Homo sapiens: one gene and its partners. The protein of the gene in region 1 interacts with the protein of each later gene in a pairwise test. Each region holds a gene or a part of one and is shown in the gene's direction. Other genes may lie near its edges.

Region 1 (4,757 bases):
GGCCTGATGGCTGAGAAGGACCCAGGACCTGAGTTTGCCAGGCAAGCCGAGGAAACGGTCCTGTAAAAGGGGGAGTGGCATGTGGACTCTGGTTATGAGTTCAGGGTGGCTGGGTGTAAGGCAGGATATCACCAGGAGTCGGAGCTGGGAGAGGTGGGAAATGGCCAGAAGCAACATCCAGGAGCACCGGGCATCCCTTGCTTACCCTCCTCACCCTTGCGCAGCAGGCAGTATCAGCCCTGCCTGAAACTTGCTCTGCAGATTGTGGGAAGAGAGTGGATCCATGTTCTAGACCCAACAAACGAACACGTGCAGTTCCCAAGCCTTCCTCACTCCCTGTTTATGGGAGACTCCGTGTTTCTCACATTTCTTTTAGTCTTAGAGACAATTTGGTCAGAAGACATGGGTTTAAATGAAGGGACAGAGGCTGGGCATGGCGGCTTACACCTGTAATCCCAGCATTTTGGAAGGCTGAGGCAGAAGGATGCCTTCAGGTCAGGAGTTCGAGACCAGCCCAGCCAACATGGTGAAACCCCGTCTCTATGAAAAATACAAAAATTAGCTGGGTGTGGTGGCAGGCACCTGTAATCACAGCTGCTGGGGAGGCTGAGGCATGAGAATCACTTGAACCTGGGAGGTAGAGGTTTCACCGAGCTAAGATCACCCCACTGCACTCCAGCCTGGGCGACAGAGCAAGACTCCATCTCAAAAAAAAAAAAAAAAAAAAAAGTCTTGGCATGGTGGCTCATAGCTGTAATCCCAGCACTTTGGGAGGCCAAGGTGGGTGGATTGCTTGAGCTCAGGAGCTCAAGACCAGCCTGGGCAACATGGTGAAACTGTCTCTACCAAAAATAGAAAAAAATTAGCTGGGCATGGTGGCACATGCTTATAGTCCCAGCTGCTAGGTAGGCTGAGGTGGGAGGATCACTTGAGCCCAGGGGGTTGAGGCTGCACTGAGTCGAAATCATGCCACTGCACTCCAGCCTGGGTGACAGAGTGAAACTCTGACTCAAAAAAAAAAGACACATTACTTGGCCCCCATAATTGGTTTCTGATTGGCAGGTCTGGTGTGGGGTCTAAGAACCTGCATTTCTGACCATTTCCCAGGTGGACCATTGACTTTCTACTGGGAATGGGTTGGACCATTTTCCAACCAACACTGCTGGTCCCCAAACCTGCACTCTAGAAGCACCACTATAGAGCGTTTCCCCTTCTAGGAAGGAGATGGGTCCTCCCTGAAGGGGCTGTGCAGGGGAGGGGATGATGGGCATTGATGGGCATTGTGACTGCAGTCCTGCACTGTGGATCTGGCTGGGCAAACATAGATAGGATGGAGGGGTGGGGTGGGCCACGTGATACCTCACTCTCTTGTACTGTGAACTGTCACCTGCAGAGCAGAGATGCCGCAGGCCCGGCCCTTAGAAGGCGCATTCAGCCCCATCTCCTTCAAGCCAGGCCTCCACCAGGCTGACATCAAGCTGACCGTGTGGAAAAGGCTCTTCCGGAAAGTTTTGCCAGGTGAGGCCCTGACCCGTCCTCCTTCCTGAGGGCTGCCGCCCAGGGCAGGTGGCAGTTCATCGATTGTATCAGAGAGATAATAAGCTACAGAGAACTCAGATGGAGGTTTGTGGAGGGTCCTAGTGAGAGCATGGGACTGAGTTTCCGAACAGCTTGGGTTCCTGCTTACTCTTTCCTTTCCTAGCTGCTGGCTGGGCAAGTTGTGTCATTTCTGAGCCCAGGTTCCTCATCTGTAAAGTGGGGCTATTTGCACCCACCCGGCCAGGCTGCAGAGCTTGTATATAGACATACGTGTGTTGCAGCTTAGTGCTTCATAAATGGTATTAGGTTGGTGCAAAAGTAATTGCAGTTTTTGCCATTACTTTTAAAAGTAATGTACTTTTTGTCTGGGCACAGTGGCTCATGCCTGTAATCCCAGCATTTTGGGAGGCTGAGGAGGGCGGATCTTCTGAGGTCAGGAGTTCAAGTCCAGCTTGGCCAACATGGTGAAACCCCGTCTCTACTAATAATACAAGAATTAGCTGGGCGTGGTAGTGTGCGCCTGTAATCCCAGCTACTCAGGAGCCTGAAGCAGGAGAATCACTTGAACCAGGGAGGTGGAGGTTGCAGTGAGTTGATATCGTGCCATTGCACTCCAGCCTGGGCAACAAGAGCAAAACTCCGTCTCAAAAAAAAAAAAAAAAGTAATATCCTTTTAAAAATGTCCTTCCTACTCAAAGGACAAGTGGTCTTCAAAGTAATGGCAAAAACCGCAATTACTTTTGAACCAACCTATTCTTGTTCTCTGTCAAAAACAACTCAAACACATTTCATTCCTTTATTACTAGCATGCTGTCTTGTACATAAGGGAGACTGCTAACAGAGCGATTTCATCCACCAAAAGCAAAAATAGGGTTTATATAAAAGAAGGGGCTGGGCACGGCGGCTCACGCCTGCAATCCCAGCACCTTGGGAGGCCAAGGTGGGAGGACTGCTTGAGGCCAGGAGTTCAAAACCAGCCTGGGTAACATAGTGAGACGCCATCTCTACAAAAAATAATTAGTGGGGTGTGGTGTTATGTGCCTGTGGGCCCAGCTACTGAGGAGGCTGAGGCAGGAGGATTGCTTGAGCCCAGGAGTTGGGAGGCTGCAGTGAGCTATGATTGCACCACTGCACTCCAGCCTGGGTGACAGAGGAGACCTCATCAGTAAAAAAGAAAAGAATGAAAAAAAAAAAAAAGGAAAGATAAGAAGGAAAAAAATTGCAGTTTGTGAACTGTGAATCCTGTTTGTACATCTCACATTTCTTTTTTTTTTTTTGAAGGAAAATTTGTATTATTTTCATGTACAGAAAACTCAACAGTGTACGTTTTACCCAGTTTAGTGGTAGTTTCTTTAGTCTTTGCCTTTTTGAGCTTGGCAATGTGAGCCACAGACTTGGGACCCAGGACACTGCCTCCCCAGTGATGGCGGATCTCATCACATTTGTTGTTGTAATTGGTCCTGGTAGCTTCCACCAGCTTAGCCCAAGCTCCTTTGTCTTCCAAGTTAACCTGTGTGAAGGCGACAGTGGTGCAGGTCTTCCTGGGGACTAGACATCCCAGTCTTGCCTTCCCCTTGATGATGCAGTCAGGGACCCCACTTTACACACAGGCACAGGCAGGAAGACAGCCAGCTTGATGGGACCCATGTTGCGTGGAGTCACCACCAGCTGAGCCTTCCTTTTTTTTTTTTTTTTTTTGAGACAGAGTCTCTGTCACCCAGGCTGGAGTGCAGTGGTGTGATCTCAGCTCACTGCAACCTCTGGCTCCTGGGTACAAGTGATTCTTCTGCCTCAGCCTCCTGAGTAGTTGGGACTATAGGCGTGTGCCACCACGCCCGGCTAATTTTTGTATTTTAGTAGAGACGGGGTTTTTCATTATGTTGGCCAGGCTGCTTGCAAACTCCTGGCCTCAAGTGATCTGCCTGTCTCAGCCTCCCAAAGTGCTGAGATGACAGGCATGAGCCACTGTGCCTGGCCCAGCTGAGCGTTCTTGTTCTCCATCAAGGTGGTGACGGTGTTAATTCCTGCTCCAAGGACAGGTGGCCTCTTAGTGGGGACATCCCCTTTGCTGGCAGCTTTCTTCTCAGTCAGGGCCAACAGTCTCTGCTTCTTCTCTTGCTTTGCCCCTGGTCTGTACTTCTGGGCCAGCTTAAGCAGCTGAATAGCTGTTTGGCGGTCCAGGGCCTGGGTGAACTGGTTAATAGCAGGAGACAGTTTCTGCTACTTATAGAGGATGGCTGTCCGCCACTGCACCCTGACCGAGCAGGACCATTGCACAAAGTGGGCGAGGTCCGTTTTGGCCTGGAAGTCCTGTCCAGTGCCAAAAGTCTTAGGCCTTTTCTCAAACGGGATAAACCACTTTCTTGGCCTCCTGCTTCTTCACGCCAGCAGGGGCCGGAGCCACCTTCTTCCCCTTGGCCTTCTTTCCTTGCGGCAACTTGGGTGGCGGGAAGGGGTGGGAGGCGGGCAGGGGGGAGCACATCTCACATTTCTGGGGTAAACGGATCAGCTGGTAACTAGCAAAAAGCTCAGGTGGGCTAGTTCGTCCTTGAATAGGCTGACTAGGCTAGCAAATCCAACAGCTGCAGTTGTTATGGGTTCTCCAGAAATCCCTGAGGGCTGAGCTATAGGCTCACAGGACAGGTGTCTTCCGGGTCCTTCCCACAACACCTCTGTGTCAGGCAGGCAGGCCAGAACCCCGAGCCCAGTGTCCATTTCTTTCTCCAGCCACCTCAGCCCCCCACAGCCCACCAAGCTGCTCCCTTTTATATAAACACTGTTTTTGCCTTGGGTGGATGCAATCAGTCTGTGATTGATCTTCCTTATGTAAAACTTCATTCATTCATTCATTCATTCATTCATTCATTCATTCAGGGAGCAGCCCTGTACTGGCCCCTTCTAGACCCTGGGGCTAGAGAGATGAGGAAGACACAGCCCCTCTCCTTGGGGAGTTCAGGGCCTCCATCAGCTTCTGTGGGCCGGGTCTGCTGCCCTCCACGTGGCCTCACAGACCCTCTGTGATCTCCCTCCCAGCCCCGGAGCCTCTCAAGTTGGACCCTGCCACTGCCCACCCACTCCTGGAGCTCTCCAAGGGCAACACGGTGGTGCAGTGCGGGCTTCTGGCCCAGCGGCGAGCCAGCCAGCCTGAGCGCTTCGACTACAGCACCTGCGTCCTGGCCAGCCGCGGCTTCTCCTGCGGCCGCCACTACTGGGAGGTG
Region 2 (4,467 bases), on another chromosome or scaffold:
GGTCCACCCAGATCAATCAGGATCATCTCCCCATCTCGAAGTTTAACTTTATCACATCTCAGAGTTCCTTTTGCCACGTAAGGTAACATATTCACAGGTTCTGAGAATCCGGACATGGACATCTTTGAGGGTCTATTGTTGTGCCTACTATATCCATGAATAATAATGATAATAAGCACCATTTTTTGAGAGTTTGCCATGTCAGATATTCTTTTAAACTGTATTTTATCTCGCTGCCTCCTGAAAAAATCCTTCCAGGTGTATATTGTCCCCATTTTTACAGATGAGAGAACTGAGGCCCAGAAAGGCTAAATGGCTTGCCCAAGTGTATGGTGGACCCAGGTTTTCAAACTCAGGTGTGTCTGGCTTCAGAGACTGGGCTCCTGAGCCCTTAAGCCCTTTGTTCCCCTTTAGAAAAAGTCACCTGAGGCTGAGTGGTGAAGGGATTTATCCAAAGCCACCCGGCCACTATGGCAGGACAGATATCAGAATACAGGTCTTCCGATCCCAGCCCAGAGCCCCTTCCCGTCATCTAGAACTCCTCCTGGTGTCAGTAATGATAACGGCAGTCACTGATGTCTTTTGAGCACTTACTTTGTGTTGAGCACTTACACTGTGCTAAGCACTTGACATAGGTCATCTTAGTTGATCCGTGTAAAACTCTGTGAGGTAGTGACCAACATTTCTCCCACCTTACAGAGGTGGAAACTGAGGGTTAGGAAGTTTCCTTGACTGTCCTCAAAGTGCACAGCTTGTGAATGGAGGAGCCAGGATGGGCGCCCGCTGGCTCTCCTATCCCTTCAGTTATGTCAGCGTCCCCCGCAGCAGCCCATTGTCTGGTTAGGTCCCGTCTTCACCATGGTGCCACCTTCATCTGCCTCTTCTTCTGCCTTCCAGCTGCCACATGCAAGAAGTATATGGCCAAGCTGAGGACCACGGTGTCTGCTCAGTCTCGCTTCCTCAGTACCTATGATGGAGCAGAGACGCTCTGCCTGGAGGACATATACACAGAGAATGTCCTGGAGGTCTGGGCAGATGTGGGCATGGCTGGACCCCCGCAGAAGAGCCCAGCCACCCTGGGCCTGGAGGAGCTCTTCAGCACCCCTGGCCACCTCAATGACGATGCGGACACTGTGCTGGTGGTGGGTGAGGCGGGCAGTGGCAAGAGCACGCTCCTGCAGCGGCTGCACTTGCTGTGGGCTGCAGGGCAAGACTTCCAGGAATTTCTCTTTGTCTTCCCATTCAGCTGCCGGCAGCTGCAGTGCATGGCCAAACCACTCTCTGTGCGGACTCTACTCTTTGAGCACTGCTGTTGGCCTGATGTTGGTCAAGAAGACATCTTCCAGTTACTCCTTGACCACCCTGACCGTGTCCTGTTAACCTTTGATGGCTTTGACGAGTTCAAGTTCAGGTTCACGGATCGTGAACGCCACTGCTCCCCGACCGACCCCACCTCTGTCCAGACCCTGCTCTTCAACCTTCTGCAGGGCAACCTGCTGAAGAATGCCCGCAAGGTGGTGACCAGCCGTCCGGCCGCTGTGTCGGCGTTCCTCAGGAAGTACATCCGCACCGAGTTCAACCTCAAGGGCTTCTCTGAACAGGGCATCGAGCTGTACCTGAGGAAGCGCCATCATGAGCCCGGGGTGGCGGACCGCCTCATCCGCCTGCTCCAAGAGACCTCAGCCCTGCACGGTTTGTGCCACCTGCCTGTCTTCTCATGGATGGTGTCCAAATGCCACCAGGAACTGTTGCTGCAGGAGGGGGGGTCCCCAAAGACCACTACAGATATGTACCTGCTGATTCTGCAGCATTTTCTGCTGCATGCCACCCCCCCAGACTCAGCTTCCCAAGGTCTGGGACCCAGTCTTCTTCGGGGCCGCCTCCCCACCCTCCTGCACCTGGGCAGACTGGCTCTGTGGGGCCTGGGCATGTGCTGCTACGTGTTCTCAGCCCAGCAGCTCCAGGCAGCACAGGTCAGCCCTGATGACATTTCTCTTGGCTTCCTGGTGCGTGCCAAAGGTGTCGTGCCAGGGAGTACGGCGCCCCTGGAATTCCTTCACATCACTTTCCAGTGCTTCTTTGCCGCGTTCTACCTGGCACTCAGTGCTGATGTGCCACCAGCTTTGCTCAGACACCTCTTCAATTGTGGCAGGCCAGGCAACTCACCAATGGCCAGGCTCCTGCCCACGATGTGCATCCAGGCCTCGGAGGGAAAGGACAGCAGCGTGGCAGCTTTGCTGCAGAAGGCCGAGCCGCACAACCTTCAGATCACAGCAGCCTTCCTGGCAGGGCTGTTGTCCCGGGAGCACTGGGGCCTGCTGGCTGAGTGCCAGACATCTGAGAAGGCCCTGCTCCGGCGCCAGGCCTGTGCCCGCTGGTGTCTGGCCCGCAGCCTCCGCAAGCACTTCCACTCCATCCCGCCAGCTGCACCGGGTGAGGCCAAGAGCGTGCATGCCATGCCCGGGTTCATCTGGCTCATCCGGAGCCTGTACGAGATGCAGGAGGAGCGGCTGGCTCGGAAGGCTGCACGTGGCCTGAATGTTGGGCACCTCAAGTTGACATTTTGCAGTGTGGGCCCCACTGAGTGTGCTGCCCTGGCCTTTGTGCTGCAGCACCTCCGGCGGCCCGTGGCCCTGCAGCTGGACTACAACTCTGTGGGTGACATTGGCGTGGAGCAGCTGCTGCCTTGCCTTGGTGTCTGCAAGGCTCTGTAGTGAGTGTTACTGGGCATTGCTGTTCAGGTATGGGGGAGCACCATCAAGGCTAAGTGTGGGAGCACCGAGCTGGGCTCTAGAAGTCTGGGCCCAGCTTCGCCTCTGCCACCCTGCTTTGCAACACTGCCCAGATCCCTTCCCTTCTGGGCCTTAATTTCAATATGTGATGATGACAGCCACACTTTATTGACTGGCCTATGTGCTGGGTCTGGTGCTATGCTTTCCGGAATGACCTCATCTAATCTCTACAACCACCCTGGCGGGTAGGCAGGAATGTTATTATCTCCATTATCCTTGACTTGAGGCTCAGAGAAGTGAAGTAACTTGTCCAGGAAATGGCAGAGCTGGGGTTCACAAATTGCATCATTCTGATTACAGGTTTTCTGCCTCCCACCAGTCTATGGATACACTTCAGAGGCTCCCTGAAAACCTTGAGGTCACTTGCAGAAAGTTTTGTGTAGTATGTGTCCGTATCAGGAACAACACCAAATCAGAGGTGACTTGTGCCCCATCAGAGACTTTAACACCCCAACCAGATGGGAATTTCAGGACCCAAGAAATAGAAAGTGGCTGCAGGGTTACAACTACTGTTGGATTCCTGAGGTAGCACAGTGTCCAAACAGGATTTCAGCACTACCCGTATTGCTTAGAGCCCCAGCCAAAGATGTGAGGTTTTGCCCTTTGGAGAATCTGTGCCCCTGAACTCGGGGGCCTCTTTCCACATCTTGGGGGCAGGCAAGGGCAGAGGGTGTGCCTAGGCCTGCGGATCAGCATGCGACAGATTCCCCAACATCCTTCCAGCTTGAAAGGGGATTGCCCTGCTTCTATTTAGAACCTATAGGAAAGCAGAAGTTCTAGATTGAAGTTAAAATTGATTCCCAGCCTCCAGGGGCTTTGGGCTACACCTGGATGACCTTAATTGACCCTAAGCATGGGACAAACCACTTCCTGAGAGTATTAGGATGGTATACATCTTCTCTGGGGGCAAAGCAACAAGATTTATTTTTCATCATGGACCAAACACATGGATACCCACTAGAAACTGTGTAGTGAATTTTGTTAACCCTGACATAGGGACCATGGTCTTTAGGTTAAAGCATAATAACAACATAATACATAACATATATAGCGAATATATATATGTATTATATGCAATGAATGTAAATATGATTATACCCATCATGGTCTTGGAGGAAACAGATGACACACTTAAAATGGGTGTTTTGAGGAGAGTTTGAAAAACAGATTGTTTACAAGCCATGGGCAGGAGTTAGGAAGAGTGAGAGGGTTGGTGCAGGGGCCTGGGGTTAGTAACAGCTGGGGGAGGGTAGACTTGAAGGGGGAAGGGGAGGGAGACTAATTAGCTGGGGGGAAGGTATGGAGACGGCTGCCTGAGCTTCTGCAAAGTGGAAGAATACCGCTTGGCCCTAACTCCTCACCCCAACTCTTGCTCCTGGCCAGCGCCTTCCACCAGCTGGACCCATCAGGGAGGCCGAGTGGGCTGTCTGCTGGAGTAGTCCCCAGGCATCAGCCTCCCAGGAGCCAGGGACGGGTAGAGAAGGGGGAGAGTGGATCTGGCCAGGCAAATGGAAAACAGCCAGCACCAAACTCTATTTCCCTAGGAGGGAGGATCATGATACTTTGAGTGGGAATTTGGAAACCTGTCTGTTGGAGCAATTTCCCTGATAGAAATAAGAATGTGCATTTTCCTGGGTAGTAGACTCAGTTTTTACCCCAAGAGGCCAGGCATCAC
Region 3 (4,467 bases), on another chromosome or scaffold:
GATATACGTATATACCCTTGGAACCTTAATCATAATCAAGATAATGAATATATTCTTCACCTCGATGGATGGGTATATGTTGTTTCTCAGGTCTGCTTATAGAGTCTGTCCCCCCAACCTTCTCTGTCTCCCCTGTCCCCAGGCAACCATTGATCTGCTTTCTGCCACTATAGTTTATAGTCTCTAAAATCTTATGCAAGTAGAATCATAGAGTATTGCTCTTTAATGTCTATCTTCTTTCGTATAGCATCATGTTTCTTCATTTCTATTGTGATGTAGGTCAACAGTTCCTTTAAAATGCTGAGTAATGTTCCATTGTATGTTTATATATTCCATCTGTTGGTGAACATTTGGGTTGTTTCTGGCTTGGAACTACTACAAATATAGCTGCTGTGAACATTCTTTGTACAAGTTTTTGTATAGACATTTGCTTTTGTTTCTCTTGGGTTGGTAGGAAGGGATTAGCTGGATCCTAAGGCAGGTGTATCTTTTCTTAATAACCAGTGATGTTGAACATCTTCTTATGTTCTTATTTGCAGGCCAGTTATCTTTTTTGGAGAAGTGTATGTTCACCTCTTTAGCCCATTGTAAATTGGGAGATTTGTTTTCTTATTTAGTTTTGAGAGTTTTTATATACAATTTCTTTATCAGATTATTTTCAAATAGTTTCTCCCATTTATGGCTCGTCTTTTCATTGTCTTATTGATATCTTTTGAAGAGCAGAATTTTGCAATTTTGATGAAGTTTAGCATATTAGTTTGTTATTTTATGGATTATGTTTCAGATGCCATGTCCAAGATACCTTTGCCTGACTAAAGGGCACAGTATTTTCTTTTAGAAGTTTTATATTTCAGAAGTTTTGTGTTTTACATTTGGGTATATGATGCATTTCAAATTTTGTATATGGTGTGAGGTGTGGCTCAAAGTTCTTTTTTGTTTTTTGCATACAGAGAAAGCATCATCCTTTGTTGAAGGGACTATTCATGTTCCACAGCTTTCCCTTTGGACTCTCATGAAAATACATATCTGTGTAGATTTATTTATGGACTCTCTATTTTGTTGCATTGATCTATATATCTCTTTCTTGAAACTAAAGTAGCATTAGTCTGATTTCTTTCTTCTTTTTTAAGAAAATTTTGATTATTCTGAGCTCTATTTTCATGTGAATTTTAAAAATTAAATTGGTTAATTTCTACAAAAAGTCTACTGGGATTTTGATTAGGATCACATTGAATTTATATATTTATTTGAAGAGAATTGCCATTTTAACAACATCGAGTCTTCCAACCTTTGAATGTGGTATATATCTCTTCATTTGTTTAGATCTTTTAAAATTTCTCTCTATGAGTGTTTTTTAGTTTTCAGTGTATAGGTCTTTCACATACTTTGCCAGGCTTATCCTTAATTATTTCATTTTTATGCTGTTATAAATGGTGTCTCAATTTCTGATTTATTGTCTCAATTTCTGATTATTTCTAGGATACAAAAATATAATTTATTTTTGCATATTGATTTTGTATTGTGTAACCTTGCTAAACTCAGTTATTAGAAGAGCTTTTTTTGTAGATTCTATTGAATTTTCTAATTAGACAATCATGTCATCTGCAGATAAAGACCATTTTAAGTCTTGCTTCACAATCTGAATACATTTTATTTATTTTTGCTCTATTGCACTGGCTAGAACTTCCAATACAGGGTTGAATAGAAGTGGTGAGAATAGATATCCTTCTCTTGTTTGTGAACTTGGAGGGAAAGCATTCAGTCTTTCATTATTTAGCATGATTTTAGCTTTAGGTTTCTCATAAGATGTGTTTCACCAGAGTGAGGAGTTCCTTTCTATTCTTAATTTATAAAGGGTTGTTTTTTTTTAATCAGTAATGGATGTTGGATTTTATCACATACAATTTTTGTGTCTGTTTAAATAATCATGTAGTTTTCTTTTATAACATTAAGATGGTAAATTGCATTTATTTTGAATGTTAAACCAGTTGTGTATTCCTGGATATCTCTACTTGGTCATGACGTATTCTCATATTGTTGGATTTGATTTACTAGTAGTTTGTTTATTACTTTTGCATCTGTGCTTATGAGGGATATTGGGACATAGGAATCTTTTCTATGTCTGGATTTGTCTGGTTTTGATATCTAGATAATCCGGCCTTTTTAGATAGTAAACATTTCCTCCTTTTCAATTTTCTGGAAGGATTTATATATAATTGGTATAATTTCCTCCTTAAATATTCAGTAGAAGTCACCAGAGAAGACATCAGGGCCTAGAGGTCTAAGAATTCTAGATTACAGTTGTTATTATTGTTTATTGTCTTCAGACTTGCATTATTTTTGTTTTTGTTTTTTTCTTTTTCTTTTTTTTTTTTTTTTTAGATAGAATTTTGCTCTTGTTGCCCAGGCTGGAGTGCAATAGCACAATCTCGGCTCACTGCAGCCTCCGCCTCCTGGGTTCAAGCGATTCTCCTGCCTCAGCCTCCCGAGTACCTGGAATTACAGGCATGCACCACCATGCCCAGCTAATTTTTGTATTTTTAGTAGAGACAGGGTTTCTCCATGTTGGTCAGGCTGGTCTCAAACTCCCAACCTGAGGTGATCTGCCCGCCTTGGTCTCCCAAAGTGCTGGGATTCCAGGTGTGAGCCTCCGCGTCCAGCCAGACTTGCATCATTTTATTAATAGTAAGAAATCTGTTGTTATCCTTATCATTGTTCCTTTATATGCAATGTGTCTTTTTCTCTGGGTGCTTTAAAAACTTTTTTTTTTCACCAGTTTTGAGCAGTTTGGCAATGATATACCTTAATATGTTTTCATGTTTCTCGTGAATCAGTGTTTTGAGATGTTTGGATCTGTGTGTTCACAGCTTCATCAAATTTGGAAAATGTTCTGCCATTCTTTCTTAAAATAATTTTTTTGCCCTTCCATCTCTCCCCTCTTCAAATACTGGTATGTTAATCTTCTTAAAGTTGGCCTGCAGCTCACTGATGCTCTCAATTCTGATTTTTGTTTTTTGTTTTTTTAATTTTACTGTCTTCTCCATTCTGTGTAGTCTCAATAGCTGTGCCTTCAGATTTGCTAATATTTTCTTCTGACGTGTCTAATGTGCCATTAATTTCATGCAGTATATTTTTCATCTTATACATTATAGTTTTTATCTCTAGAAATTTTATTTGAATTTTTTCATGTCTTTTCTACCTGTACTTAACATTTTGAGCACATGAAATCTAGTTACACACTTAATGTCCTTGTCTGCTAATTCTAATATATGTCAGTCCTGCTCAGTTTTGATTGTTTTCTAAATTATGGATCATATTTTTCTGCGTTTCTGCATGCTTGATAATTTTTATTAGATGTCAGTCATTATGAATTTTACTTTATTGGGTGGTAGATATTTTTGTATTTCTATAAATATTTTGTGATTTTTTCTGGTACATAGTTAAAATAGTTTGAAACAGTTTGATTCTTTCATGTCTTGCTTTAAGATTTACGTGAAACCAGAGAAATGCACAGTTTAGAATTAAGTATTCCCCCCTACTAAGGCAAGACCCTTCTGTGTACTCTACCCATTCCTTTGTGGATTATGAGTTTTTTTACCCTAGCTAATGGGAACAGGCAATATTCCCGTTCTTCTGTGACTGTAGTGTACCTTGGACCTTTCCCTGGTCTTGGGGTGTTTCCTCACTTGCCTGTGCTGATCATTACAAAGGTAAATAACCCAGCGAGGACCCTCTCTGTTGTGCTGTGTCTGTGTGTAGCTCTCTTTTCCAGTATTCTGGAAATCTCTGCAAGGATCTGTCCTCACATAGAGCTCATCGCAGTTGTTTCAATAGGGCTCATTGCAATTGTTTCCTGGCTCTCGGGGATCAGTTTTTCTTGACCTGATGATGCAGGATTTTTCTCGACCCCTTTGTCAGATTTGCAATGGGGGTGCCCTGTTTACTCAGCCTGCCACACTCAACCCCTTGCAGGAGGGAGCACGTGAGCAAGCGAGTGGGTTCAGGCTGGCTGCTTTGGGTGCCGGCAGGAGCAAGCTCCATGCACACCCTGTGGCGGTGCCCAGGTGGGAGTGCCTGTGATCCCCAGAATCCCAGAGGGCATGCTACAATGCCCTCTTAGCTTAGCTTTACCGTTTATGGACAGCAGTGTTATCAGCTCAGTGGGCCCCTTGTCTTGTCATGTGGGGTGTCTACACTCCACCAGCAAGGGCAAAGGGCTAGTGTGACAGCCTTTTTTGGGTACCTGCATCCAGTGGGTCCCAAGCCCTTGTGTGGTGTCCAAGAAGAACGAGGTCATGCTGACACTTGAAGGATGGTGGAGGCAGATAATTTTATTTAGCGATGGATGTCTCTCAGTGGAGAGAGGAGCTGGAAAGGGGGATGGGATGGTCAGGTAATCTTCCCTGAAGTCAGAGCGTCCCTCTGAAGTTAAGCTATCTTTCCTCTGAAGTCCAGCTGTCCCTCTGA

The links.
Region 2: the proteins of TRIM50 (region 1) and NOD2 interact in a two-hybrid assay, tested with the Homo sapiens proteins (one study listed by IntAct).
Region 3: the proteins of TRIM50 (region 1) and ZNF438 interact in binary tests that used the Homo sapiens proteins (3 or more experiments, as listed by UniProt).

What each region holds. Positions count from the first base shown.
Region 1 is NC_000007.14:73,313,326-73,318,082, reverse strand, and holds part of TRIM50 (E3 ubiquitin-protein ligase TRIM50), read left to right. Parts: intron 1-1,393; coding exon 1,394-1,518; intron 1,519-4,413; coding exon of another isoform or gene 4,414-4,454; exon of another isoform or gene 4,455-4,572; coding exon 4,573-4,757. UniProt on the Homo sapiens protein: E3 ubiquitin-protein ligase that ubiquitinates Beclin-1/BECN1 in a 'Lys-63'-dependent manner enhancing its binding to ULK1. In turn, promotes starvation-induced autophagy activation.
Region 2 is NC_000016.10:50,709,661-50,714,127, forward strand, and holds part of NOD2 (nucleotide-binding oligomerization domain-containing protein 2), read left to right. Parts: intron 1-283; coding exon of another isoform or gene 284-356; intron 357-897; coding exon 898-2,713; coding exon of another isoform or gene 2,714-2,714; exon of another isoform or gene 2,715-2,977; intron 2,978-3,092; coding exon of another isoform or gene 3,093-3,093; exon of another isoform or gene 3,094-3,929; intron 3,930-4,467. UniProt on the Homo sapiens protein: Pattern recognition receptor (PRR) that detects bacterial peptidoglycan fragments and other danger signals and plays an important role in gastrointestinal immunity.
Region 3 is NC_000010.11:30,878,344-30,882,810, reverse strand, and holds part of ZNF438 (zinc finger protein 438), read left to right. Parts: intron 1-4,467. UniProt on the Homo sapiens protein: Isoform 1 acts as a transcriptional repressor.